Linked DNA regions of Homo sapiens. The main gene of each other region encodes a partner of the protein of the gene in region 2 in a complex. Each region holds a gene or a part of one and is shown on either strand. Other genes may lie near its edges.

Region 1 (7,021 bases), on a different chromosome or scaffold from region 2:
GTTCAAAGCCCAGCTTTGCCTCTTGCTGGCTGCGTGACCTTGCAAATTTACTCAACCTCTCTGGGCTCCTGCCTCCTTATCTGTAAAAAGAGGACAAGACTATCTAGCTACAATGCGATGGTGAAGATTCCATGAGTGAATGCACACTAAGAGTCTAATTGGGGACCCGCCACATGTCAAATGATTCCAAGACAGCTTTTTACATTTTAACATCTCTGAAACTGGGATGCAACTTACAGTTTCTGTTGCTTTTTCTTTCTTAATGGATTCTAAAATAAGGGTACATCTCACAACAGATAAGCCCTGCCTTGAATGAAATACCGCAGTAGCTTAGATTCTTTACTTCCCTTGCAAAGAGGCTGAAACGCCTGTGAGATGGGATCAAAGACCAAGAACACAAATCGTTAAGGGACAAGGGTCTATTGAGGCCTAGCATTCACCCTGGATCTCCAGAGCTTCACGGAATTTGAAGGCTCAGGCCCTTCCCCGGCCTGGCGCCCCTCTGGATCTGTCTCAGCTGTCCTAGTCTTGCTCAGAAAGCGGCCCAAACTTCAGCAGGACCCTCACCTCTGCCTCCAACCCTCTGTTGCTACTGATGTGGTAGGTTCCACAGTTGGACAGTTTGGTCACAATGCTACTGTGCTTGCAGCCACCCAAAACCCCAAGTCTTTGTCCCAAGAAAAGAGTCCTAGTTCCCACCTTCAGAAACCCCCACAGACATCTCCTCCAGTGTGACTCCATCAAGCCATCCTTGGACTCTGCTCCCAACTGTTCCGAAGGCCAGCACTGGGGATGTCATCCAGGCCTTACCAAAGTCCTTATGCTGTGAGTGCTGACTTCATCCCTGCAGCCTGCTGATGTCAGACCGGCCTGAGTATTTTATTATCTAAATATCATTATAACTTGTATTGCATACATAGTTGGCCCTCTGTATCTGTGGGTCCTGCATCTGTAGATTCAACCAACCTCAGATGGAAAATATTCGAAAAAATTAAGGAAAAATAACAATACAACAATTAAAAAATACAAATTTAAAAATACAGTACAATGGGCCAGGCATGGTGGCTTGCACCTGTAATCCCAGTATTTTGGGAGGCTGAGGCGGGCAGATTACTTGAGATCAAGAGTTCGAGACCAGCCTGGCCAACATAGCGAAACCCCATCTCTACTAAAAATGTAAAAAATTAGCTGGGTGTGGTAGTGCATGCCTGTGATCCCAGCTACTTGGGAGGCTGAGGCACAAGAATCACTTGAACCCGGGAGGCGGAGTTTGCAGTGAGCTGAGATTGTGCCACTACACTCCAGCCTGGGTGACACAGCAAGACTCTGTCTTAAAAATATGTATATACAGTATAATAACTAGTTACATAGCATTTACATTGTGTTAGGCATTGTAAGTGATCTATAGATGACTTAAAGTATACAGGAGGGTGTGTGTAGGTTACATGTAAACACTATACTATTTTATATCAGGGATTTGAATATCCACAGATTTTGATATCCTTGGGTGTCCTGGAAGCTGAATATTTAGGAATGACTGCACACATATCACCAAAATCTTTACAGAAATAAATTATCTATCAAGTATAAAATTATTTTATTTTATTTTTTTTTTTAATAGAGGCAATGTCTTACTTTGTTGCCCAGGCTGGTCTCAAACTCCTGGCTTCCCAAAGTGCTGGGATTACCAGGAGGAGCCACCATGCCCAGCCAAAACATTTTAAATGTAGAAAAGACCAAAGAAAACAAAATTCTACCACCTAGTGATAATTAGCTTGATGTCTGTCTGAATATTTTGCTATGTCTGCATGCTAGGGAAAGATTCTTTTCTCATATCCAAACCCAAACAGTCTCATTCCACACATACTACTCTTTCTCTTACCGTGACATGGTGGCCCTCTCTCTAAACAGACTGGTTTCTTCATGGCGGCCCCACAGTGCTCCCGTCCTCTATCCCTATCCCTGGCAGGTCCCAGGCCTCTACAGGGACGTAGTGCTTTGGGTCTGACGTTGTTCCTCCTCATCCTCAGAGTGGGGCTGTGATCTGTGATGGGGCCATGGCTGCCTTCGGGGACCCCACCAAACAAAGCCACACCCAGGCACAGAAATACTCCAGAGCACTTAAATCAAGGGGTGTGTGGTTAATGGCGGCTGTCTGTCTCTGTCCGATTTGATTGTAGCCCTTTCAAAACCAACTGAAAGTTCTCCCAGCCCCAGATGCTGGCCTGATATTTCCCTAACCCCTAGGGGCTCCAGAAATCACAATGAATAATGAATAGGTAGGTGCCTGGCATTTTGTAGTTCATAAAGCGCCTCCTTACTTTTATCCAATTTAGAGCCTTACAACAAGCTTATACATTAGGCAGAACAGGTATTTATTATCCTCATTTTATAAATGAAGAAACTGACGCTTAGAGAAGTGGAGTGACTGACCCAATATCTTCCCTTATTTTTCTACCCTTCATAGTCTGGCCGTCTCCAAATCACACTAACAACCCAGCTCAGGCATCAGCTCCTCTAGGGAGCCTTCCATGACCCCCCACTTCCACCCCAGGCTGGGTTAGGTGCCCTCCTGGAGGCCCCACAGCTCCTGGGCTTCCCTATGATAACTGTAGTGCCCCTGCCAGGCCATGGGCCCTCACGGCTGTGATGGGTCTAGCTTGTCTGCATTCACACTCCCCAAGCATTAGAAAAACATCAATAGGTGGTTGCTGGGGTGAAGATCATTACAATGACTAAGGCAGGAATTATTCTTCCCCTTTTACAGATGAGGACACTGAGTCATAAAGAAGGGTCAAGACTTGCCTAAGGAGCATATCAGCAGCGGGGTCAGCTCTCCTTCTTCAGAGGCCTGGGTTCTTTTGCTCCACTGCATCCCTTGTTGTCCGCAATCTTAGACTCCAAACCATTGCTGGAGGCTCGTATCTGATTTCTCAGGCAGGTCTACCTGGTCAGCCAGGTGTGAAAGGGAGGTTGGCAGGAGGGGGCTCTGTCTGCAGTGGGCTCAATTCCCCAGCCTGGGCCAACACCGTGGTGCAGCCTTAGGAACAGCCACAGGAGTTGCCCAGTTATTGAGCACGCCATAGACCACGCCCTGTGCAAGAACTTCCCTTGCACTTCTTACTTCATCCTGTGGCTGGGGCCGTTATGATGCCATTTTGCAGGTGGGCCAGGAGAGACCCTGGCCCAAGGCCACTCAGTGTCTGAGATGGGGCTAGAAGCCAGGGCTGCATCCCTGGCAGCAGGCAGCCCCAGGAGTTTGCTGGCACCAGAGCCAGAAATAAATGCACAGTCAGAGTACAGGAGACAACTCTCAGGGGACCTGCAGTGTGGGCAAAGCCCCAAACTCACCTCCCACCCAGGGCTGGCTAGAGGGACAAGACTCTTGGGCCCAGGGAACACACGCCTGCCCCTGCACTGCCTGTGGGCAGGGTCATGCCATTTGCCAGGGCCCCTACAAACTCCAGGCTCAAGGCCAGGCTAGAAGCAGCTGTCATATCAACCCTGCACAAATGCTCAGCTCCCGATTTCTTATTTGAATGAGACTTCACCTATCTGCTCCTGACTGGCTGACAGATGCTGAGCAAGGCCCCATCTCTTATTGGGCCTTACTTTACCTATCTGTGAAATGATGCCAGGAGAGGGGTGGCTGGCGGGGGGAGGGGCTAGGTTTGGGGGATGGTATCTTAATGGAACCCACCAACTCTGACATTCCAGGGATGGACTACAGGCAGCAGGGGAAGGTGATTAAGCCCTGGACACTGGTGGCAGATGACATAGATTGAATGTATGATCCTGGGCTAGCTACCCAACTTCCCTGGGGCTCAGTGTTGTCATCTATAAAATGGGAATGATAGTACAAAAAAGACTGAAAGTAAATGTTCATATTGATTATGTGGGATGAGAAGAGGAGAAGATATGGGTAATTTATTTTGTCTGTTTTCCTGCCTTTTTCTGAAATTCTCCATTATCAAGTGTTTATAATTTTAAAAATGTATTTTCTTTGTAAATTAACTTCATGAGATATCATTTACATATAATATATCCATTTTAAAACGGGAGAAATAATAACAAACAGTATGTACCCTATAGGTTGTTATGGGGATTGGGTTAACGTATATAAAATATTAGATGGTGGTAAGAAGTGCTAATAAGTGTTTGTTAAATATATAAGCCCAGGGTCAGCCTGGCTTCCTCCTCATCCTCCTCCTGCTCACCTGGCCTGGACCCCAACCTCTCCCCTAGCACTGAGCTCACTGCCCAGGTCCCACAGCAGCACTCCAGGCCTGGACTATTTCTACAGCCATCTCTCTGCACCTGTCTTCGTCCGTTGCTGCAGCTACAACAAAATATCATAAATTGGGTGCTTTGGCCAGGCGCGGTGGCTCACGCCTGTAATCCCAGCACTTTGGGAGGCTGAGGGGGGCAGATCATGAGGTCAGGAGATTGAGGCCATCCTGGCTAACACTGTGAAACCCCGTCTCTACTGAAAACACAAAAACAAAATTAGCCGGGCGTGGTGGTGGGCGCCTGTAGTCCCAGCTACTGGGGAGGCTGAGGCAGGGGAATAGCATGAACCCGGGAGGTGGAGCTTGCAGTGAGCCGAGATCGTGCTGCTGCACTCCACCCTGGGCGACAGAGCAAGACTCCATCTCAAAAAAAAAAAAAAAAAAAAAAAAAAATTAGCCAGGCATGATGGCGGATACCTATAATCCCAGCTACTCAGGAGGCTGAGATGGGAGAATCACTTGAACCCGGGAGACGGTGGCTGCAGTGAGCCAAGATCACACCACTGCACTCCAGCCTAGGCGGCTGGGCGAAACTCCATCTCAAAAAAAAAAAAAAAAAATGTAGGTGCTTTATCAACAATAGAAATGTATTTCTCACAGTTCAGGAGGATGGAAGTCCAAGACTAAGACAGCAGATTTGGAGTCTGGTGAGGGCCCACTTCCTGGGTCATAGAATGGCGCCTTCTTACTGTGTCCTCATGTGGTGGAGGAGGTGAGGGTCTCTCTGGGGCCTCTTTTATAAGAACACTAATCCCATTATGAGGGCTCTGCCTTCCTGACCTAATTCCCTCTCAAAAGCCCCACCTCTTAATACCATCACCTTATGGGGTAAGATTTCAACATATGAGCTTTGGAGGAACATAAATATTCAGACCATAGCAATCTCGCAGGAATCACACCAATATTCAAATCTGGCCATGTTCCTACCCAATTCAAAAGCCTTCCATGGCTCCCCGCTGACCCTGGCTGAAAGTCCTAGATTCTCCATGAGACACAGTTTCAATAAGCCATGTAACTTTTCTGTATTTTTGTTTTCTTAATTGGAAAAGCGGGATAAAAAGAGTAGCTCCGTCATACACTCGCAGGATTCCATTATGAGCATGGTGGGGTACACAGTCTAGCCCAGGGCCTGCCTGCTCCTCTCTTCCTCTTCTCCCGCCATCACTCTGTCCCAGCTCGTGCTTCTCTGAACATGCCAGGCATGGTCCTGCCTCAGGGCTTTTGCCCCAGCTGTTCCCTCCACCTGAATGGCTGTTTCCCCAGAAATGAGCCTGACTCACCCCTCTCCTTCAAGCCTTTGCCTAAAAATCACCTTCTCAATGAGGCCCCCAGCCCACCCTAGTTAAAACTGCCCCCTCACACACCCTAACCCCTCCTATGTTCTATTTGCTCCACCTCATTTATCACTGATTTTATTTATCACCTATTCATCTATTTTATTTATTGTTTTTCATCTGTCTTCCCCCCATCTGATTGTAAGCTCTTTGGGGGAAGATCTTTCTGGTCTATTTTGTTTAATATCAGCGCCTTCCCCCTTTCCCCAGCACTTAGAAAATACCTAGTACAGGTCAGGTGTGTTGGCTCACATCTGTAATCCCAGCACTTTGGGAGGCCGAGACAAGCGGATCATTTGAGGTCAGGAGTTCGAGTCCAGCCTGGCCAACATGGCGAAACACCGTCTCTACTGAAAATACAAAAACTAGCTGGTGTGGTGGCACGCACCTGTAATCCCAGCTACTCAGGAGGCTGAGGCATGAGAATCACTTGAACCCAGGAGGCAGAGGCGGAGGTTGCCGTGAGCCGGGATCATGCCACTGCACTTCAGCCTGGGAGACAGAGCGAGACTCTGTCTCAGAAAACAACAACAACAACAAAAAACAACAACAAAAACAAAACAAAAGAAACAAACAAAAAAACTAGTACAATGTAGGTGCTTAATAAATACTGGCTGAATGACTAATGGAATGAATGAACATAAAGCACTTAGGACAGAATTAGGCAGGCGGTAAACCCTCAATGAATGTTAGCTATTATTATTACTGTTAGTGATTCTTCAAAGTGAGGCTCCCATGTCCCTCCTCCTTGACTTCTGCAAGCTCATAATCACACCTTCCTTGTCCCCACCACACCCTGCCAATCTCTCAATTATAGTAAGGAGCACACCGCTCTTTAAATACCTGTATATCTTTTTCCATTTAGGCTGAACCAAATGAAATTGCCATTTCTTGTAAGTCAAAAAAAGTCACATACTGGCCGTTTCATGTGGTTTAACCTAGTAAGTTTCCCATAGCAGCCTGCAGACCCCCAGGAGGCACAGTTTGACCACAGAAGCAAAGTCACCTACTCCTGGCCCTTTAGACCAGGTGTGATTGCAAAGCACGTCCAATCTGTTCTGAAGGAGGCAAGGCATGGATTATAGACTTAAAACACAAGAAGATTCTGCTGAATTATTTTCTGGACCTCCTGAGATTTGGCAGAGAAGATAAAAACACACCAACTTCTAAAACGATCCAGCTTCTGGCCATTTTGAAATAGCAAAGGTTTAAGGCTGAAACCCCTCGGTGGGGAGCTAGCTACCTGCCTCTAAGGGGATTCATTTAATGAATCTCCTTCCAATCTCGGCTTTGCTACTGAGATTTGTTCACTCTAAGAGGTTGGCTGTCAGAGCTCAAACAAATTCAGCAACTGCTGAGTCTACCCCCATTTCACAGATGGAGAAAGTGAGGTCCAGA
Region 2 (7,284 bases):
CCTCCTCAGGCATCTGGGAGGGCCCTGCCCCCATGGGCTTTACCCTTCCCTGCGGGCTCTCTCCCCGACACATTTGTTAAAATCAAACCTGAATAAAACTACAAGTTTAATATGAAGCCCCCAACTCAGCTGCTTATTTGAATTAAATGGGTGTATTTGGAAGCCACAAAAAGACTGAACTCTGCCACTGAGTTCACTGGAACCCGCTGTCTATCACTTTGACTTGCTGTGGACCTGCCAGCCATCCCCCCACCCTCCAAGCAACCTTGACCTATTCCAGACAGTTGGGTGGGAGGCAACACAAACAGCAGCAGCCAGGGGCAGTGGCAGGTAGATTTTATTGGCCTGGGACACACAGGGGATACCCTCACCCACGATGGGGTGGGGGGTGTGGTGTTGAAGATATAATCTGATGGTCACTTGTGGTAGAATCGCGGGTTCTGGCTGTGTTGGATGAAGGGGAGCCGAGGGCCAGGTTGGCTGGTAGCTGCAAAGCCCGACTGGTGGTGGTGATGAAAAGAGGGCTTTGTCACTGGGCATACTCTCCCTTCCACTTAATACCCTACTGATAACCACCCCCAAAGAGGAAGGAAAAACCAGATGATGTGGGCCACCTGTCCTACCTAATCCTGCTTTTCCGGATCCCTAGTGTAGGGATTCTGACAGGTAAATTCTATTACCATTCTTACCTTTCCTGCTGGCTGCATCTGCACAGGGAGCTGGGGGGAAGCAAGGAGTCCAGGGGCTGGATGCAGAGCCTGGGGGTGCATGGGGCGCAGAGAGGACTGCAGAGAACAGAGTCAGGGCCTGAGGCATACTGAAGCTCCCCTTAACATATCCCTAACCCTGACCTCCCAAGGTGCCATACTCACTGAGTCGGAGAAGCCAGTCTGCTGGTTAGCATGTTCCATCTGCTTTTGCAAGGACAGGGCACCACCAGGCTGGAGGAAACCTAGGTGGGGAAGAGGGGCATGTGAGATGAGAATGAAACAGGGAGGGGAGGACCTGAGAGCTAGAGCTCCTGCATGGGATGTTATCACCTGTCTGAGTGGGCTGAAAGTGGCCATGCACAGCATAGGGCTGTGGCTGTGGCTGAGATAGGTACTGCACTGCAGGGAATGCCGAAGGAGCTGAGAAAGGAAAAGACAGAGCCATTAAAATCTTTTACTGAATGGCATTCCTCCTTTGACCTTGAGGAAGGCCAAGCCCCATCCCTCCTATTACTCACCTCTGAGCTGCTGACTAGGACTATAAGCTGGCTGTGTGGGCCCATAGTGAGGTGGGGGCTGAGCAGTCCCATAGGCACCACCAGGACTGCCTTGGAATTGTCCATGCTCTGGTGTCCCTGCAAAAGCAGCTGCTGAGCCCACGTAGTGCCGGGTCTAAGGAAGGAGAATGAGAACTCGCCTACAAACTCCTTGAAAGCTGAAACCCAGTGACTTGTGTGTATCTGTATGCCCCGTTTCCCCCTAAACTTAAGTGCTTGATATGTTTGTGACTTGAATACTGGTGGCAAGGATGCATGGATGGAAGTACTAGGGGCTAGGCATCCAATCCTACTCTCACCGTAAGCACTTGGGGTCCAAACATTTGTTTGGCTCTGTCAGCTGCCATGAGGGTGCCTGGGCGATTGTGTCCTCCAGGGCTCCCTAGAAAGGGAGAAGGGCTTCATGATGCTGAAATGGGAGGCTGTGACCTCCAAGAAGGCCGGTTCCATCTGGTGGTTTCTTTAGTCCTCACCCTGCATGCTGAGGAGATGAGTTCCTGTGTGAACAGTCAGGCTCTGCTGGTATGCAGCTGATGTTAGGGTGGTCAGGTCACTGGAGTGAAAGGAAGACAGGTCAAAGTCAAGGACAGATGCCTTCTCTTTTGCCATTAAACACTGGTTCTTTTACTACCTGATCCCAGTTCCACTTGGCCCCCATTTCAGTTTTTAGCACTCTGATCCCACCTCTGTTCCTTTCGCCTCCGTTTTTCTTCCTCATGTAAAACTTTCTTGAGCTGCAGGAAAAGCTGGTGCTTCTCTTCCTGTAGAGCCAAAAGCTTCTCCTCCAACTTCAGAATCTGGGATGGGGTGGGAAAAGAAGATGAAGGCAGGGAGAGTCAAACGAAGAAATCAAAGCTGGGAAAGTTCAAGGGACTGCTTACTTGTTCCTTGGTCTCCTCTAATGACATTCTCTCTTCCATCTCCTTTTTCTTCCTTCTCTCCTGTTCTTCCTTCATCTTCTGTTCCATCATCTTATCCACCTCTTCTTCCTCTGGAGAATCAGGCAGAATGAAGAAGAGGCAGGGTAGTGAAAACAATTCCAACGTTACAGATTGAAGACCAGCAAAACCCAGTCATCCCAACACGCCTGTATGCTCTTTGCCTCGAGGGGACAAGCTCCCCATCGCGGCAATAGGGAACGGAAAGGCTTTATCAGGTGCTCTCCAAGGTCCTTCCCATCTCAAGGGTTCTGGAGCGTGGAACAGGACGCTTAAATCCCACCACAACGGGGCTATTCCTTCCCTCCTCTGCGCTCGGCAGCGGGCGCGCTGGTTGGCCGGTGGGTTGAGGCCAGCCTTGAGGTACAGGAGCCATTCTGGGCCGTGCGTCCCCCTGCTATGGCCCCGGCTCACCCTGCCGCTTGCGCTCCCGCTCCATCATAATGTGCCGGTGCAGCGCCCTGGCCATGGCGTTGGAAAGCTTGGGGCGCTCCAGGAGTGCGGGCATGGTGCTGCCGTGGGCGCTCGGGCCGTGGGCGCCCGGCTGTCTCTGACTGCCAGACCTCAGACGGGGCCTGCGGGGAGGCGGGCGCTCAGAGGGGGCCGCGCCCGGCCCAGGCGGAAGCCCGTCCGCCCGGCCCGCTCGCCGCCCCGGTCACGTGTCCCAGGAGCCCGCCACCCGGCCGGGACCGCAGCCCCAGTCCCACCGCGCGCGGGCGGCGCCGGGGTCCCCGGCTCGCTGCTGCCGCTCCCTGCCCAGCCAGCGCGGACGACTGCCCTTCCTACCCGCCTTCTCTGCGCTTTCTCAGCGGCTCCGACGCGCCCTGGCCCCTGCGTCACATCCGGCGGCCCGGCCGAGTCCTTCCGGAGTCACGGCGGCGGCCGACCTCACAGGTGAAAGAAGGCGGAAGCGCGCTGCGACGGGTGCCCGCGGCGTACAAACCCCGTCGCCGGGAACGTGAGCGACGACGGCTGCAGACTGGCCTTGGCATCCTCAGCTCTCTTTAATTTCGCGGGCCCACCTGGTGGCACCCCAGGGGACGCGGGCTCCGGAGAGGGGCGCGCGAGAGAGAGGCCGAGGCGGAGGCTCTGAGACGGTGTTTATTGGCTCCTTAGAAATCAGAGTCAGTAACAACTGTACAGAGGCCCCCATCTTCCGTGCGCCCACCCTTCCCCACTCCCGCCCGGTGGCCCCGGAAAAAGCAGCTTCATGTGGGCACAGGGAGAGACTCCTCTGGGATTCACAGTAACCAGAAACAAAAACGGAAATAAATTAAGTGATGTGGGGTAGGGGAGTAAAAGGGAGTCATGTTCCCCAAATCAGTGCATGAAGAGGGGTACCAGGGCCTGGAGCTGGGCTCCCACGACTCCTCCCATCAGACGGAGTGCTGGGCCTCCGGACATGGAGCTGTGCCACTTGCCACCTACATCTGAGAGCCTGCCTACATGCTCCTGCGCGGCTGCCAAGCTCCAGCACCTGCGCATGCCACGAGTCACGGGAATGAGGTGGAGGCAGTCGCCACTCAGAGTCCATGGGCCCGCGGCCCGACTGTGCTTGTAGTAGTGGTGTCTCACCCCTCATTCCACCCGTACCAGCAGGGCACAGAGGAGTGTGGCCCCCTTCTCCTTAGTGACCCACTCAAGTTCGGCTGGACTGAAGTGAGGGTCAGGAGGTTCTCCAAGGGCAGCGGAAGGGGGTCCCGGGGTGTAGGAGCCAGGGCGCACACACACCTGGAACGCCACCTGAGCCTGGTGCGTCCGCTGGGATTTGGGGTCCCGGAATCTGTCAGACAAGAAAAAATAAGGGAGTGAAGCCTCTCGCCCCATCACCTCCCCCTTGCAAAGTCTGTTCCAACCACACAAGCCTTGCTGTACCTAGGAAATACTCCCACCTTATGGGAACTTCGCTCTAGCTGTTCTACCTGAAATGCTCTTCCTCCCAAAGCCTGCTCAGCTACACCCTTCACTTCCTTCTTCAAGCCTTTGCTCGAATCTCTCCCACCTTCTTAGGATGTCCACACCAACCGCACTGCTGTCTCCGCCCCATTCTTTCTCTGTTTCCATAGTCCTTACTTATTACCTTTAAAAATACTAAATACTGGCGGGGCGCGGTGGCTCACGCCTGTCCCAGCCCTTTGGGAGGCCGAGGTGGGCGGATCACGAGGTCAGGAGATCGAGACCATCCTGGCCAACATGGCGAAACCCCGTCTCTACTAAAAATACAAAAATTATCCGGGCTTGGTGGTGCGTGCCTGTAGTCCCAGCTACTCAGGAGGCTGAGGCAGGAGAATCGCTTGAACCCAGGAGGTGGAGGTTGCAGTGAGATCACGCCACTGCACTCCAGCCTGGGTGACAGAGCAGGACTCCGTCTCAAAAAAAATAAAAATAAAAATAAATAAATAAATAATACTTATTACGTATGAACATTGTAGAGAGAAAAGGCAGAAGTTCCACAAGAGCAAGGTTCCTTTTTTTGCCCACTAGAAGAGTATATAAGTAGTATTTGTTCAATGAATGAAGAAAGGGCTGAGTTGGAGACTGGCAGCTAGCAAGACGAGATGAGAAAAGGGGAGGGCGAATCATGAAGACCCCAGTGGCTGCGCTTGGGCCCTCTCCATCCGAGCCCCTGGAAATCTCTCCCCACCCCTCCCAGTACTCACTGCACTTTGGAGGCCAGGGTCTCCGCCCCAGCATATTGAAGGGAGGGGGAAAGCAGCACAGGAGGGGGCTGCTCCTCCCGAGGAGGTGCACAGTTCTCGCCAGGCTCCTCGAACCCTACCCCAGGTTCTCCCTTCAAAGGACGGCAGCTCAGGATGGAGGCAGTACCTGGGAGGAGAACTGGGTCAGGATAGCCCTTTTTATTCCTCCACAGCCCCCCAGGCTCAGCCCACCTTGCATGGGCCTACTCGCCAGTACCTGCTCCCAGCTCCCCTCGGTCCAGCACTCTCCGTACAGCGGCAACATTGCTCCCGTGATATGCCATGTGCCACTTCTTGGTTAGTGTCCCAGCCTCCAGGCGGGGATTCACTCTAGGAGGTGGACAAGCGGGGCAGATACAACGAAGGCCACTGACTCCCCAGTGGAGGAGCTTCACGAGGCTCTTCCTTAGACAGGAAGTCCCTGGCACTTCCTGGCTTTTCCTTAGACAGGAAGTTCTATTACTTCTTCCATGCACCCTCTTGGGATCCCCGTTTCTCCAGGGGGAAAACAGTAGGGGAAAGGCATGACCTTGCCCATATGTACCTGAGGTTGAACCTGCACCAGCCAAAGGGCAGTGCATATTCCCGGGGAGGCTCCCCTCTGCGCCTGTGGGCCTCGTCTCCTCGCAGCTTCCGGCAAGACTCACAGTAGCACAGGCTTCGCTTTGGCGGAGGCATGAAATAATCTTCTGCGGGACAGTGAGTAGCAGGCTTGGTGCTGTGGCTCCCACCTCAACCACAGTGGCACCCTCCAGCTGCTCTCCAAGGCTCTAGGCCTGGCCCTGGGAATGAAGTCAGTTCTGGCGGACTGTGGGACTCACCGGGAAGCAGCAGGAGTTCTTGGAAGCGAGAGCAAAGGGCATGGTACTCGCAGCTCTTTAGAGGACTAGCGGCAGGTGGTGGACCCCAGCACACACTCTCTTTGATACCTGAGGGAGCAGAGGGGCACAGGTCACAGGAGCTGGGCTAGAAGGGTGAGGGTGGGGGAGTAGGGGCAGGAGCTGGGTCCCTTTGGGCTGGCACACCGTCCACCATGTCTGCTTTCTCCATGTCCCCTTGGGTTCCAGCACTTTTCCCACTGGCAGCCCCTGGCTCAGGGTTCACGATTGTCACCTGCAGGGGAGAGGGTAGTCAGACAGAGCTTGGTCAGACCCCAGGGCCTGCTGATCCCTCCCTGGAACAGAGATTTCCCCTGTCCTGGACAGCGCAGACTCTCAGGCACCCCTCCTCCCTGCCCCCACTGCCACTAACCTGCTCACACTGCCCATAGAGGTCCACAAGCGCATGGCAGGGCTGGGGCACATCTGGCACAGCTACCCCCTGGTCCACCCCATTAACATGAAGATGCAGCCCCCCAGAGCTGTCCAGCCGCAGTCCCAGGATGGTGCCTTCAGGGCACGTGTCCAGATTGGGCCCAAACTTCTCGCAGATCTGGGAGGAGAGACCGGCTGTCTTCCAGAGGTCAGACTCCACCGCGGCAGCTGTCCCGCCCTTTGCTCTGCTTCCTTTTGCCAGTGCCTTGGCTTTGCCTCCATGCTTGCCCACTGCCGAGGTTCTCCTCCCACTGCAGTTACCTAGAGCCCCTCCCCTTCCCCAAAACTGGCACATTCTCAATGGCAGGGACACCGCAGGAAGCAGCAGGCCTAAGACTGACCAGGCAATGCTACTCGCCCTTGCCTGCCCATTACTGTTCCCCTTTTACACCTGTGGTCCTACCTCCAAGGCTAGGGGCCCACTTCTCCCTTCTGGCCAGCCCTTCTCTACTCACAGGCCTGGTCCTGTTCCTTCTCTCTGGCTCCTACTCACCTTGAGACCGTTGTGGAAGACCCCACGGCCCCGCAGCAGCCAGGCTGCCCGTTTGAGGGCACAGGCAGAAGCAGGGAAGTTGAGCCTCTCAGGCGCGCAGGTGATGACTCCCAGGACAAGGGAAGATGTCCACTGTCGGTTTAGGAAATCTATCCGCACCTGGGGAAGAAAGAACTACTCCATAATCACAGCCTCCTGGGAAGAACCAGGCTCCGCACCCCAGCCAGAGAGGGAATACTGCACCTCCCAGAATGTGGCCTGGGATGCTGCCTTTTCTTATGCTTGGAAGGACCAGAAAACGCTAATTTAGTTGTTTCTTTCCCTCTTTTTTTTTTTTTTTTTTTTTTTTTTTTTAAAAAAAAGAACCGCCAGCCGGGCATGGTGACCCACACTGTAATCCCAGCACTTTGGGAGGCTGAGGTGGGTGGATCACCTGAGGTCAGGAGTTTGAGACCAGCCTGACCAACATGGTGAAACTCCGTCTCTACTAAAAATACAAAATTAGCCGGGCGTAGTGTCATATGCCTGTAGTCCCAGCTACTTGGGAGGCTGAGGCAGAAGAATCGCTTGAACC
Region 3 (7,021 bases), on a different chromosome or scaffold from region 2:
CCACCCCCTCCACCTTAGTCTGGGCACCTAACCAACACCATGGCTTCCTAACTGGTCTTTCTACTTCCATCTCCATCCCCCCTACCCAAACCTTTCTCTATTCAGCAGTCAGAATTGTCACTTTCAAACACAAATTGGATCATGTCACTTTCCTGCTTAAAATCCTTCAATGGTTTCCCATCATCTTTGGAATATAATTCAAACTCCTTACCAGGGTTTAAAGGCTCTGCACAATCTCACCATGGCCAGCTTCTCGGACCTCACCTCAACAGACTGAAGTCCAGTGGCACAATCATAGTTCACTGTAACCTCAAACTCCTAGGCTCAAGTGATCCTCCTGCCTCAGCTTCCTGAGTAGCTAGGACTATAGGCATGCACCATCATGCCCAGCTGATTTTGTTTTTTATTTTCTGTAGAGATGGCTCTCACTATGTTGCCCAGGCTGGCCTCAAACTCCTAGCCTCAGGCGATTCTCCCACCTTGGCCTCTGGAAGTGTTGGGATTATAGGTGTGTGCCACTGGGCCCAGCCCTCAGAGCCTTTTGTGGGCCTTTGTCCATGCTTGGGTCAGGCTTCTCTCTGCTCCTCTTATGACTCACTCCTTCTTAGTCTCCAGGTCTCAACTCAAATTTTACTTCCTCAGAAAAACTTTCCGAAACCATGCTATCTCAAGTAGGTCCCCCATTGTATCCTGTGTCTCAGCTTTCTTTTTTTCTTTCACAGAATTTATAAGAATCTATTTATTTCATTTGATTATTTATTTTTTGTCTGTTTCCTAAACTGTAAACTCCATGGGAGACTCCTTATTCCATCCCCATGATGTGGTATGATGCCTGGAACATAACAGGTGCTTAATAAAAATATATCGTGAATGAATGACCATCTAGGGAACCCTGTTCAAGATGACATTTCTAGTTCAAGTACAATTTGTAGCTATTTTTGATTTCCAAGAAGAGGTGAGGCCCATTCCCCAACTACCCCCACCCACGTACTGAAGTCCAAGGCCACTTAAAAACCTTGGGGAGAAGAAGGAGAGCAAGTCTCACCCATGCCCTCGGATGCTGAGGTTAAAGCAGCCCAATCGATCACAGCCCAGAGAGTCAGCTCCACACTGCAAAAAGCAAAACCCCAGGAAAGTGCAGTGATCAGAACTGATCAGAACATCACAGATACCCCTTCCACCACCAACCTAAAGAACCTCCTCTTCCCTTGCTCTCTTTCCCCAAGCCCAGGCAGAACACTCCTGAGGAGGAACTGACAGTATTACCTGGAGCACAATGCACGTGGGTTGGTAGAAGTCCACTACCTGGTTGATAACCGGCTGGAAAAGGTGCTTGTAACCTGGGAGAGGGCCAAAGATGGGCACCTGGCACCCCAAGGGGATGGGGAGACAGGGAACAAAAGGAAAAAGGGGGTTGAGCGAGCATGTAGCCCAGGAAAGGGGCCACCCAAAAGAATCAAATCACTGGTCTGAAACTTCTGGAAGGGATCCCAGACTGCTATGAGTGACTGATGAAAGCCAATGACTTTTCCCAGAAAAATGCACATACACATGATATGTTGCATACAATTTCCAGAGATTCATGGTCCCTCTGAAGGCCATTCATCCTTAAGGACAACTGGCCCAACAGCAGACAATACCAGGCAGAAGAGGTTATTTCAAGGAGAAAAAGAAGGGGCCTAGGGAACAGAGGGAAGACTTCGGTACTTACTCTGGTCATCAATGCCATCCCGCAGGGGCACGTTCAGACAGTAGTAGCGGCCACTCTCTGCCCCGACTTCATACATGTCACCTGTAGGGAAGTGGGTGGTGGTAGCCACACATGGGAAGCACCCACAACCCAGCTGTTTCAGCCCCAATCTGCACTCTGGGAGCCTCTCATTCCATCTATGTAGCTTCACCATAAACTCCCTAGAGCCACTAAATCTCTTGCAGCTTGCATTCATTGGGCAAATAGTTTTGGGGGATCCACTCTGAGCCAACTGTGTACTAGGCAGTAGGGATGCAGCAACGAATGGAACTAATGAAATTTACGATATCCCACCACGCTTATATTCTTAGGGAATAGCCATGAGGAGGAGGGAGGCAGTAAACAAAACAAAACAAAAAACCACAATAAACACAAATAGCAGTGAGTGTTCTGAGGGAAACAATGAGGCTGATGTAACAGAGGAATGGGGAAGGAGGTGATTATGATAACTGGAGTGGTAAGGAAAGGCTTCTCTGAGGAGGGGACACCTGAGATGAGACTAGAAGGCTGAGAAGGAGGCACTCATAGTAAAGAGCTGAAGGGTGCAAAGGGGAAAGTAATCCCTATTCCCATACCTGTGCCAGGGAAGAAGTAATTTCCGTATTTGTGGAAGGACACCGTCATGACCCGGTCAGTGAGGTAGAAAGCTTCTTGAACCCCGTCACCATGGTGGATGTCAATGTCAATGTAGAGCACCCGAGGGTGGTACCTAGAGGGAAGCCAAAGCCAGGGTCTGAGCTAGAAGTGAACCCCCCAACCCACTCCTCTCAAACACCGGGTCTCGAATTGTGAAGAGTCTGCTTCTGCCCTGGTCACCTGAAACTTAATGTCACCAGTTCCCTAAAGGCAACTGGGGGCTCCAGCCTAGAGGCTAGAGGCAGGGACAGGAGAGGGATATGCAGAGAAGGCTGAAATGTGAGCAGGCAGTAGGGAATCTGCAGCAGTGGAAGAGGCAGCCTGAATAAAGCATCAAGAACTTGGGAGAAGCTAATCAGGGAGGAGGGAGGTCAAGGTCAGGGTTGAGACTGAGAGACCTCCTCAGCCAAGAATCCCGTAACTGCCCCCATCTCCTCCTGGGCTACTTACTTGAGCAGCTCCAGGATGCCAATCACAATGTCGTTGACATAGCAGAAGCCAGAGGCCTATGGCAAGACAGTGGTCTCATAAAGAGAAGAGCAATTCCCCTCCCAGCTGCCCCCCACCATCATCCTAAACACCTACCCTAGGATGGCCACTGTCTTTCCCATCACCTCCTCACTCACCTCAAACTTCTTGGCATGGTGCAGACCACCAGCCCAGTTAATGGCAATATCACAGATCTGAAAGACAAACACCTAAGTCACAGTCCTTCCTGCCCACCCCTCAAGCTGGGAGCCCAGGATCAGGGTTAAATCCCGAGTCCAGGGATCCAGAGGAAAGGAAGAACAGGACTCGGGACTATGTCACCTTGTTGTTCAGCTGGGTTGCTCCTTGCAGAGATGCGCCTGTGTAACGCGAGCAGAACTCAAAGAGCCCGGGAAACACTGGGCTGCAGGGAAGAGGAACAAGTTGGAACCCTCCTGCCTCTGTCTGGGCCCTTCCCATATCTCCCTCCCCATCCTAGATTCCTCCAATCTCCATTTTTCAAGAACCTTCTCTCCCTCTCCTACACACGTGGGCTATCTGCAAATTTATTCAACAAATATTTTGGACCAAACCATGTACCAAGCCCTGTGCAAGGCACTGGATGGGAAGTAAAGAAGCACTTAACTGTCAGGGAGTTTGTATCCTAGCTGCGGAAAGAAGCAAGCAGCTTCCAGGTACTCAAGTACAATGTAAAAAGGAAATCAGTTGAAAGAAAACATGAGCTCTGTTTTTCTTAGTCTTCTCAGTGTAACAAATTTTAGCATAATGTTCAATAATATTTTTCAGTCACATATTTTAAAGAAAGAACTGTATACCTACATATGTGAAACAGTGATGAGATAACCCACGAAAAGCCTGTAGCACAGTATACAGTATCCGCTCAGCCTTTAATAAATGTCAGCTATAATTATTACCATTGTTATTCTTTATAAAAAGTAAAGGCTTGAAGCCAGACACAAAAGCCTACTTACTGTATGACTCCATTTATGTAACATTCTGGAAAAGGTAAAATACAAGGACAGACATCTTATCAGTAGTTGGCTGGATCTAGGTTGCAGAGAAGTTATTAACTACAAAAGGGTGAGTGACCTTTGTTGGGTAGTGGAAATTTCCTGTACCTTGATACCTTTTTTTTTTTTTTTTTTGTAGAGACAGGGTCTCACTATGTTGCCCAAGCTGGTCTCAAACTCCTGGGCCTAAGTGATCCTCCCGCCTTGGCCTCCCAAATTGTTGGGACTACAGGTGTGAGCCATCGGCGCTGGCCCTATACCTTGATATATTCTATCAAACCTCTCAGAACTCTTACACCTAAAAAAGGTTAATTTTACTGTATGCAAGTTATACCTATATAAACCTGACTTTTTAAAAAGGAAAGGCTTAGGCAATCCCTAGTTTTAGGTCTCAAAAAAAAAAAATAGTGCAGCTGATACATTTGACCATGTGAAAAACAGAACTGTAGGGGTTTTTTGTTTGTTTGTTTTTTGAGATGGGGTCTTGCTCTGTCGCCCAGGCTGGGGTGCAATGGTGCGATCTCGGCTCACTGCAGCCTCCGCCTCCCGGGTTCAAGCAAGAATTGTAGGGTTTTATAGTTTCTCAAAAGGCTTGGAAAGAATTAGTGATTAATACCAGAAAACTAAGCAAATGAAAAAATAATGCAATTGTCAGCTCCAGGAAAAACAAAAAGCTTTAGAAGAAAATAGATTAAATCACACTACACTATTTGGCTTGATAGTAAATGAATCTTTCAGAGTTATAATAATGTAAACACAGAATACTGATTTATTTTTAAATTACTATGAAGCTGAAAGGGGAAAGGAAGCCAATGTGATGGTGTAAGAAGACTAAATGCTCATATCCCATACTAAAAGCTTAACAGATAATGCCTAAAATTGACAGACGAAGAAATAGCAATGAGAGACAATACAGGAGGGGAGTATGATTACAAGCACCGATTCTGGAGCTAGACTACCTAGGTTCTTTAACACCTACTAATGATAGTGAGGTTGTACAAACTGTTTAACCTTTCTGTGCTTAAGTGTCCTCATCGGTAAAAGGAAACAATAATAGACCCTGCTTCATAGGGGTTGTTGAGATTAAATAAGCTAATGGCTGTAAAGCACTTAGAACAGTACCTAGTATATAACAGGTATTACCTAAGGATTACAGATTAGTAATAACAGTCAATTAATATTATTATTTAGAAATCCAAAGGTAAATACCAGAAGACATAGGGGAAAGGAGCTGAAAGTGGCTGTCACTGGGCAGAGGGATTTATGGGTGAAAAGGAGAGGTCTGGAATTTTTTTTTTTTTTTTTTTTTAAGACAGAGTCTCACTCTGTTGCCCAGGCTGGAGTGCAGTGGTGCAATCTCAGGTCACTGCAACCTCCAACTCCCGGGTTCAAGCAATTCTCCTGCCTCAGCCTCCTGGAGTAGCTGGGACTACAGGCACGTGCCACCACACATGACTAATTTTTGTATTTTTAGTAGAGATGGGGTTTCACCATGTTGGCCAGGCTGGTCTTGAACTCCTGACCTTAGGTGGTCCACCCGCCTCGGCCTCCGAAAGTGCTGGGATTACAGGCGTGAGCCACTGCGCCCGGCTTGGGACTACTTTTTTATTTTTTTCATTTAAAGGCCTATAGTACAATTTGGCTACTTATGTTAGAATACTTTGAAACCAATCAGAAATTCATTAAACAGAAGAAAAATTCCTGATTCTCATCGGAAATACAGATAAGCACAACTGTAACTTGTTTGACAGGAAGACTGATGCAGCATAAATAGCCCAGAGATAGTATTCTAATTAGCATTCCCTAATCGCACAAAGAGCATCTACGGGACCCCAGTGTGGCGTAAGGGCTGACCCTGTATTCACAGAGCTAGAAAGTGAGCTCAGAAATAACAGCAGGAATACTAACAAAAAAACAAGAAACCTCCCCAAACAGCATGTGACTGAACACCAAATGAGCAGTGCAGTGTGTGCAAGACAGAGCTCTATGGGCTGGTGTGGTCAAGAAAGGTTTCATGGAGATGGTGTGAAGGCTGAGAAGGCCTTGAAGAGGTTGAATAGAGAACTAAGGGCATTCCAGGAAGGCATCCTGTGCAGCTGAGGTGTAGGGATAAAGTTGGAAAGGTGCCAATGCCAGCCTAATGAGTTGGCCTCTATCCTACAGCCCTGGCTGCTTCTGTCATTAAGATCTTTCAGGAAAACAGATTAGTGGTTTAAAAACCCGGGATCTGGATCATGCCCCCTCCAATGACCAGTTATGTGACTACGGCTAAGTTACCTAGATATTCCCAAACCTCAATTTACTTATATATAACATCAGAAAAAGGTCTATTATAATACATCTAAGGATTGGTATGAGAATTAAGTGGATTTACCAGCAACCCTTGGCATAATACCTAGCAGAGTAAGCACTCAGTAAATGGTAGCTATCATAAGAAATTCTACAGGATCAACAACCTGGTTTCTTCAAGAAATAAATTCAAGGGGGTGACAGAAAAGCTACAAATTAAAAGTCTTAAGAGACATATCAACCAAATGCACTGTATAGACCTTGTTTAGATCTGGATTTAAATTAGCTACAAAATAATTATGAGACAACTGCAGAAATTTGAATATTGATCCCATATTTGATGACATTAAGGAATCACTGTTAACTTTTTAGGTTTGATAATGATACTATGTTTTTTTAAAAGAGTATCATTTAGAGATACATAATAAAATATTTATGGATAAAAGGATATAACATCTAGGATCTGCTTTAAAACAATCTAACATGAGGGAGTATAGATGAAGTAAGAGTGGCCACTTGCTCAGCTGGGTGCGATGGCTCACGTCTGTAATCCCAGCACTTTTGGAGGCTGAGGCTGGTGGATCACCTGAGGTCAGGAGTTCAAAACCAGCCTGACCAACATAGTGAAACCCCATCTCTACTAAACATACAAAAATTAGCCAGGCATGGTGGCAGGCGCCTGTAATCCCAGCTACTCGGGAGTCTGAGGCATGAGAATCGCTTGAACCCAGGAGGCAGAGGTTGCAGTGAGCCAAGACTGCACCACTGCACTCCAGCCTGGGCTACAGAGTGAGACTCTGTCTCAAAAAAAAAAAAAAAAAAAAAAAGAGTGGCCATTTGCTCATAA
Region 4 (7,811 bases), on a different chromosome or scaffold from region 2:
TTGAACAAACCCAACAAATTATTTCAACCAACTTCATCAAAATGTGTCAAGTCAGGAATTCTTTATAATAGTACTGCTACAAGTTGTACTAGGGAGATTCCTTTGTCAGCTACTCGTCTGACAAGGTTGTATATATACTGCACTGATAGATTTAATCAACAAGTTGATGTTCAAAAGGTCTATTAATACATTTCCTTTTATCAGTACCCCTTATATTTATATTACCTTCTGTTAGCTTGAAAGGCTCCTAGAACACAGGAAGCAGTTACCTCTAATTCTTTCGGGAGACTGGTGTCATGGTAATCATGCAAAACCTTTAATTAGGTGTCGAGAATACAAATATCAAAAAGATTCTTAGACATACGTATTAAAATGCTTAACACTTCTTTGAAGCAACCAATGCAAAAATATCATCTCTGCAAGGGGTCACTCCATTTACCACCAGTGTCTCCCACATTAATACCCAAAGCTGGTATACGTTAAAAGAAAAATGTCATAAACTGACGGTGAGCTTTGCAACAATTTTTATGCCATTAACATGTCACTTTATTAAGTTCCTTAGCAATAAGAAAAACTTTTCCCAGGCACGTAGTTTTCGTCCCCCATACAGTTTAGTATTTTGTCCTGTAGGTCGGATTCCAACAACTCAAACGTCAAAAAAAATAGTAGTTATTTATGAATTTAATGATTGCGATTACATACATCTCAGTGCAGGATAGGGTTGAAAAAAAAAATCATATTCCAAACAAGAAAACCTGGATTTAAGAGCAAGAAGCCTAATCACACATCACACGCCTAACTGCTCTCAGGCATACTTTCTTCCTGCAGCCCCTCCCCCACAGGTAAATGCTAACTATTTCTAGAACTCTCAACTATTTGGGAAGCTTGCCATCAACTCCCATGATACCACCCAACCCACACCATGTTTTCGGGGAGACAAAGGTGCCCTACTTCCCCAGACTATAAACTATTAAAATGGTGAGAACATACAATCCCAGGAAGTCGGCATTACTAAAATACATCAATGTAGCATGGGTCTTATTTTAACAAAAATGAAAATGAATCACACTGGAAAACCCAAACAGTCACTCATTGTATCTTCAACGTGTAATCGAAATTATTTATTCCAAGTTATTTCAGGTAAGTAGATGAACACACCACGAGGGCCTTATTATCCAAACTGGTGAAGAAGCCTTTAGGAAAAACGGAGGGGGAAGATCACTTAATTATATGAGGTGGGGGGTAGAGCAACCATTCAGTCTTAAAATTCAAACTAAAAATAACCTGGCATTTTCACCCCCCACATTTTATTAACAAGCTTGTTTAGATCAGCATACGGTTCCTGTTTGGAAAACAAGAAAGTGAATAGTAAACTTTCCTAAGTCAACTGTAAATCACATAGGTACTAAAACTCTTCACCCCTGGTGCCTGCACAGTCCAAGATTTCAAGTAAACTCCAGACACTGAGAACACCTAATTTTTAACTAGTTTCCAACATTTCTCATTTGTAATCACCAAATTATCTTAGAGACACTTAGATAACCTAACAAAGAGAGCATTTTTTAAAAGCCACAACCCAAATTTTACATGAAATACACCATTTTCACAACCTAAATTTAATCCCGGTTGCCACTGCGAAGTGATGCCTGTTTCAGCAAATTAAGAACTTCCAAAAATACTGAACACGTTAACACATGCATGGCTTCCCTCGAGCTGCCATTTAAGATTAATATTCCACTTAAATAAAAGTCTGCTTCTGTTCAAAAAATTAAATCGGTTGCAAAGAGGAAGTTACCGAGAAACCACCCTCACAACGTGGCCTTTACACTGTCAGAAAATAACGTGACTCTGTGCCACCCAAAACTTACCAGGAAGCTGGCAATAACTTTGCCAATTCTACACTCCTGAACCCAACTTCAAAGAGCCTCCACCAAATACCTCCTTAAGACGATAAAAAGCACTAAGTTACAAATAAACACGTCCCGGAGCAAGGCCCGGCTGCCGCGCGCCCCTCCCCCGGCCGGCGCCCCCGCCCCGGACGCGCGGCCCCAACAGCCGCCCGCAGCCCCCAGCACGCCGGCCGGGGTCGCCGCGCCCGGGCCGGGGACGCGCCCGGGGAGGGGAGATTTCCATTGCCGCCCGAGGTTTCACAAAATAGCATGCACCGAAAAGCTCCTTCTCCTCTGCTAAAAATAGGCTATAAAGGAGTCGGCCTCATGATGGCTCCTTGATTCAATTTGCTGCAAATCCTTTCCTGAAAGCCTCCCCCCCCAAACACACACGCACAAAAAGGGGGTGTAAATGCACGAAGGGAGGAAGAGGGGGAGAAGGCCGAGGTGCACATTTTCGGGGACAACATAATTAGGGTGAGGATCCCCCGAGACCGGGAAAGGGTAGGGGGGTGGGCAGGCACGTGAGCATTTCAAAGAAACCTGAGAGAGGAAAACGGGGGGATGGGGGCGCCCCAAGTGCCCTCCCTGCCTTCCCTTCCCCCACGCAAGCCCAGTTCCCCCAAGGGCCAAGTTGAAAAATGCATGTTCCACTCGCGCCCATCCCCCCGCGGCCCAGCGCCCCCGGCCGCCTCTGGCCCGCGCCCCCCGCCCAGGCCCCCGGCCGCCCCCACTCCAGGGTCCGGCCCCCAGCGCTTACCTGGAAACGGTGGCCTCCAACGCCGCTCCCCCCTCCCGGGAATGGAGGCACAAGGAAATTCCCCTCCTCGCCGCCGCCGCCACCGCCTCCAACCACCCCCAAAATAACCCCTCCGGGGGGTGAGAGGCAATTATAACCCCAGCGAGCGGAGGGCGCGGGGGATGGGCGCCGGGCGGGCGGGGGCGGGGAGCGCGGCGCGGGTCCCCAGGTGGCGAGCGGAGGTGCTCCCGCCGCGGGGGGAGGGGCGGGGGCGCACGCGGCCGGCGGCGGGGGGAGGCGGCGCGCGGGGGAAGGGCGCGAGCGGGGAGAGGAATTGAGGCAGAAGGTAAAAGCTGTTACTAAGGGAAAGAGCCAAACGGTTCGGAGCAGCCAACGGCTCAGACACTCAACACTGGGGAGAGAGGAATGGGGACCAGCCAGGCACAAATGAGCTCGCGAGGCCCGCGGCGGCGGCGGCGGCGGCGGCCGCGCAGCAAAACAAACCCGAGCGGCCTGCGCCGGGCGGGCGGGCGAGCGGGCGGGCGGGCGCGCGGGGGAGGGGCCGGCGGGGGAGGGGCGCCGCGGACGCCGGGAGGCGGCGGCGGCGCGGCGGGGGGGCTCCAGCGGCCGCGCTCCTCTCCTTCCCGGCCCGCTCTGGCGGCACTGGGGGCTGGGCTGTGCGGCGCATTCTTTTAAAAATCAGGCGAGCCCCGCGGGCACTCGAAGGCGCCTCGGGGCCCCGGGCCGCCCGCCCCGCCCCCACCGCCGCGGGCCGGCCTGGGTGTGCTCGGGTGTGGGCCGCTGGGCCCGAGACGGGTGGGGGCGGGGAGGCCCGCGCGGTGGCCGGGGTGGAGCCGCCGGCGAAGTTTCCCCAAGGACGCCGCGGGCTCCCGCGTGTCCGGGGGGCGGCCCGGCGGCGTTGGGGGCTGGGCGCACACGCGGCGGGCATGTGGGGGAGTGCGGCGCGGCATCATATGGACATTTGTTTGTGAAAATCTCTGTGAACACCTTTGTGTGCGTAAATACATATGGTTCTCCGAAGCGTACCTGGAAAGGTGCTTTATCTGTAATAAGCGACTTTCAAAATGTGATCCAGAGCACGGGATCTGGAGAGAAAACACGCACACAAGAAAAGGTTTTTGATACTAAACACAAAGCTGTAATTGAAGTATTTATGCCCAAATGTACTGTGAATCAAGCATATGGTGGTATTTATCATCTGGTGGGTCTGTTTGAAAGGTTTGCTCGATCAGTTCTTATTTCACAAAAATAAAATAATGTAACTAAATGTTTACTAAATATATACCTGCACAGTGGCATCCACAGTAGAAGTTTATCCACTTTGTGTACTTTTTGCATGTGTGAAGCACAGCAAGGCGGTTTATAAAGTATAACTTAGATGAGTGATAATGTGGCAGTATGGTTGAGGGAGGGTTGTTTTTAAAGAAGGGAGGCACCTCACAGGTTTTAAAGCAAATGGGGTGGTAATCTTTCTAAGACTTTCAGAAAGATGGGGTAGGGTGCTTTTTAGAGCTTTGTATAAGCTCAGGACTGGAGAAGCAGCCACCCTTTTACATTAAGATACGACTTGAAACCTTTTTGTTATTTCGCTTATTACTGCCTTCAAAGCAAAATAATGTTTGCAGCTTTCTTAAAGGTGAAGGGTTCTGTTTTCCTACTTTCATCAGAATATTTGAAAATAGATGTAGTGATCACTTTAAAGCAACCATCATTTCCTCTCAATATCAGAAACCTGAAGTTTTGCGACACACACACACACACACACACACACACACACACACACACACTACTCGTAACTTGCACCAGTCTGGACTCCTGGTGGCCTAATAAGTTCAGTAATTAGACAGGTGCTTTCTTGGCCAAGGTCAATGTCTCTTTCCCCCCTGAGCCCTTGCTTGGGGGAGCTGCCAGAGGCCTTTCCTGAATGACCTAGTGGGGCAGGGAGCAGGAAAACCATCAGAGGAAAGGGAGTGGGATTGGAAACTCCCTTCCAACCACCAGAGAGTTCAAAGCATATTAGTGGTGTGTCCTTAGAGCTATTTTCATGTATGAAAGTGGGAATGTTGGATTAAACAATGTCACCCGATGGGAATTTAGATAACTGCAGGTTTCCAAAACACTATGCAGAGTGTACAGGGAAACCGCACAAAGCAAGTTTTGCATTTCAATAGGATTCTAAAGCTGAGGCTTGTTTACCTCAGAACTAACACCTTTCAGAAGACTTTATTTCAGAATTGAAAAGAGTATATAGTATCTTCCTTTTTTTTTTTTTGAGTTGATAAATGACGTAGATATCACTAAACATACCCTGTCTTCAGTAAGTAAACTATCTCGGTGGAGCCACTCAATGAAACATATCTATTGGCTTAGATTATTTTTTAAGTTTCATATTGTGCCACCACGGGCGGGTCCTCTCCATACAGCAGTGACTGTAAAATCAAACCCCACTTTCAGTGAGTGAGGACTTCTCAACCATACCATTCTTAAAGCGTCATATTCAAAGCTGCCCACCCCACCCCTTCTCCTTCCCCTAAATGACTTCTATCCCTTATTCCACAAGGGAGGAGACACCCTCCTTCAGGTTCATAGGATCAGGTCTTCCAGCCTGAAGTTCTTATACCCTACACCAAGCTGCCTCCTAAAGTTGTTCAGTGTTAGTTGAGCCTCCTCACAATGATAATAATCCATGCATTTGTTTATATCCCTGTAGTTTACAAGACATTTCTGTGCGTAAATGACTGCATTTAAATATGAAGATCATCGAGGCTGGGGACTTACAAATCCGTTGCAGTAAAATGTACTTTACTCACCACTGTTGGATCATACTAATTGAAGAGAGAGGAGAGAGCAGGAGTACATTTTTTTTTTTTAGGTGGAGTTTCGCTCTTGTCGCCCAGGCTAGAGTGCAATGGCGGAATGTCGGCTCACTGCAACCTCTGCCTCCCAGGTTCAAGCGATTCTCCTGTCTCAGCCTCCCGAGTAGTTGGGATTACAGGCATGCACCACCACGCCTGGCTAATTTTGTATTTTTAGTAGAGATGGGGTTTCTCCATGTTGGTCAGGCTCGTCTCAAACTCCCGACCTCAAGTCATCTGCCTGCCTCAGCCTCCCAAAGTGTTGGGATTACAGGCGTGAGCCACTGTGCCCGGCAGCCTGGAGTGTTTTTAAACAAACAAACAAAAATAGGGGCACCCAAATGTGGAAAGGCCTTGATTCTTCCAGCAAAGGGGGTTTTAAATCAGATCATATTTTGATCCCTTTGATTTTTATATTCTGGAAACTATCTGAAACAACAGTGTGGCTTCAATGTTAAATACTCAGAGAAATAAACCATCACTCAAAGGTCATATGTATTGTCGCCTCGCCCTCTAGCTGTCCCAACATATCCAGCATAAAGGATCAGGGCTGCACCAAAATACAAGCAATGATTAGACTCACTGGGTGAGGAAAGGACAAAGAAGGAACTATTGTTACTAATATTCAGTACTTTGTCCTAATCTAACACTCCCATTACACTTTGAATTAAATGTTAATGTGTTTCTAGAAAGGAGATATTACTGTATTACTAAGAAATTGTAAAGCAAAGGAACACATTAAGTTCTCCGCTGGGTGTGGTGGTTCACGCCTGTAATCCTAGCATTTTGGGAGGCTGAGGTGGGCAGATCACTTGAGGTCGGGAGTTCAAGACCAGCCTGGCCAACATGGTGAAACCTCGTCTGTACTAAAAATACAAAATATTAGTCGGGCGTGGTGGCGGGTGCCTGTAATCGCAGCTACTTGGGAGGCTGAGGCAGGAGAATCGCTTGAACCCTGGAGGCGGAGGTTGCAGTGAGCCGAGATAGTGCCACTGCACTCCAGCCTAGGCGACAGAGTGAGACTCCGTCTCAAAAAAAAAAAGTTCTCTCTTGAATTTTCTAGCTAATTACTCAATGAAGAGAAACCTCATACCAGTAACTGTTATCAGAAGTTACTATATATTGTAAAATGGCTAAACAAATCCTGACTTGTTTTGCCGGGTGCAGTGGCTCACACCTGTAATCCCAGCACTTTGGGAGGCCGAGGCGGGCGGATCACGAGGTCGGGAGTTCGAGACCAGCCTGACCAACATGGTGAAACCCCGTCTCTACTAAAAATTCAAAAATTAGCTGAGCGTGGTGGCACATGCCTGTAATCCTAGCTACTCAGGAGGCTGAGGCAGAAGAATGGCTTGAAACCGAGAGGGGGAGGTTGCAGTGAGCCGAGATCTTGCCATTGCACTCCAGCCTGGGCGGGTGACAGAGTGAGATTACATCTCAAAAAAAAAAAAAAAAAAAAAACAAATCCTGACTTGTTTTATTTCAGTAATATTTTTCCGAGAGGAGTGTGGCATGGCAAGATAGCCTACACATTTGCAACTTTCATCGCTAAAGACATGGAACATTTTAAATTGAAACTGCTTCAATCCCAGGACTACAGGGTCTCATTACTATATATATTTTTAAATCATCATGATGTTTTAAATTGTTTACATTAGCTCATCTACATAAAGTATTCAAAACAAACTTAATTGTATAAAAAAGACATTTGATACCAAAAATATTCTCCTAGTGCTATAACTCATTTTATATTCTTTACTCACCCTGGAATTCAGTGGCTTTACGTCTGTAGCGTTTACCCCCAGGCGTCTTGCTGATACTCTGTGATGTTTCCGTTTCATTTTGACTTACCTTGTGCAATTCTTTGTGGTTCTTCCGAGATGAGGCACATGCCAACCACACATCTCAAGATGTCAGTACACAAGCTGCTTTTCTCCTTCAGTGCATAGCGTGTTGCTTGTGACCTTTCCTCATCAGTGTGAACCTTGTCACAGTTTTCCATGCTTCTATGACCCAATTTCATTACAACAATAAACTTTACTTGAGAGTCTTCATTTAAATTGCAAAAGAAACATACAACTATCTTACAAGTATTTATGCCTCTCAGATAATGAAAATAGCAGGTTGTATCCTGCGATTGTGATTCAGTCAAAACAGAAAACCAACCACACACACAGCATGTTGCTGTACAATCACTTACTTATACTGACCAGCCACATACTTTCTCAGGGAAGCACTCAAGGCCTAGTATTATATTGATGGTTTTGCTATTCATTCAATGTTTATTGAATGTTTAGTGTGCCAGGC

The links.
Region 1: GPS2 (region 2) and CORO2A share a complex: the UniProt entries of both Homo sapiens proteins name them as parts of the N-Cor repressor complex.
Region 3: GPS2 (region 2) and HDAC3 share a complex: the UniProt entries of both Homo sapiens proteins name them as parts of the N-Cor repressor complex.
Region 4: GPS2 (region 2) and TBL1XR1 share a complex: the UniProt entries of both Homo sapiens proteins name them as parts of the N-Cor repressor complex.

What each region holds. Positions count from the first base shown.
Region 1 is NC_000009.12:98,182,628-98,189,648, forward strand, and holds part of CORO2A (coronin-2A), read right to left. Parts: intron 3,063-7,021; exon of another isoform or gene 2,806-3,062; intron 1-2,805.
Region 2 is NC_000017.11:7,312,340-7,319,623, forward strand, and holds GPS2 (G protein pathway suppressor 2), read right to left. Parts: upstream 3,022-7,284; 5' UTR 2,992-3,021; intron 2,781-2,991; 5' UTR 2,714-2,780; coding exon 2,620-2,713; intron 2,259-2,619; coding exon 2,149-2,258; intron 2,065-2,148; coding exon 1,952-2,064; intron 1,821-1,951; coding exon 1,741-1,820; intron 1,650-1,740; coding exon 1,567-1,649; intron 1,383-1,566; coding exon 1,229-1,382; intron 1,131-1,228; coding exon 1,041-1,130; intron 953-1,040; coding exon 873-952; intron 786-872; coding exon 690-785; intron 501-689; coding exon 417-500; 3' UTR 322-416; downstream 1-321. Other genes in the region: NEURL4 (neuralized-like protein 4), read right to left, coding at 3,784-3,988, 4,866-5,031, 5,122-5,234, 5,449-5,593, 5,726-5,833, 5,930-6,017, 6,156-6,335, 6,711-6,869. UniProt on the Homo sapiens protein: Key regulator of inflammation, lipid metabolism and mitochondrion homeostasis that acts by inhibiting the activity of the ubiquitin-conjugating enzyme UBE2N/Ubc13, thereby inhibiting 'Lys-63'-linked ubiquitination.
Region 3 is NC_000005.10:141,626,848-141,633,868, forward strand, and holds part of HDAC3 (histone deacetylase 3), read right to left. Parts: intron 3,279-7,021; coding exon 3,197-3,278; intron 3,070-3,196; coding exon 3,013-3,069; intron 2,893-3,012; coding exon 2,837-2,892; intron 2,460-2,836; coding exon 2,326-2,459; intron 1,793-2,325; coding exon 1,712-1,792; intron 1,366-1,711; exon of another isoform or gene 1,341-1,365; coding exon 1,267-1,340; intron 1,111-1,266; coding exon 1,046-1,110; intron 1-1,045. UniProt on the Homo sapiens protein: Histone deacetylase that catalyzes the deacetylation of lysine residues on the N-terminal part of the core histones (H2A, H2B, H3 and H4), and some other non-histone substrates.
Region 4 is NC_000003.12:177,194,472-177,202,282, forward strand, and holds the start of TBL1XR1 (F-box-like/WD repeat-containing protein TBL1XR1), read right to left. Parts: upstream 3,012-7,811; 5' UTR 2,650-3,011; intron 2,008-2,649; exon of another isoform or gene 1,869-2,007; intron 1-1,868. UniProt on the Homo sapiens protein: F-box-like protein involved in the recruitment of the ubiquitin/19S proteasome complex to nuclear receptor-regulated transcription units. Plays an essential role in transcription activation mediated by nuclear receptors.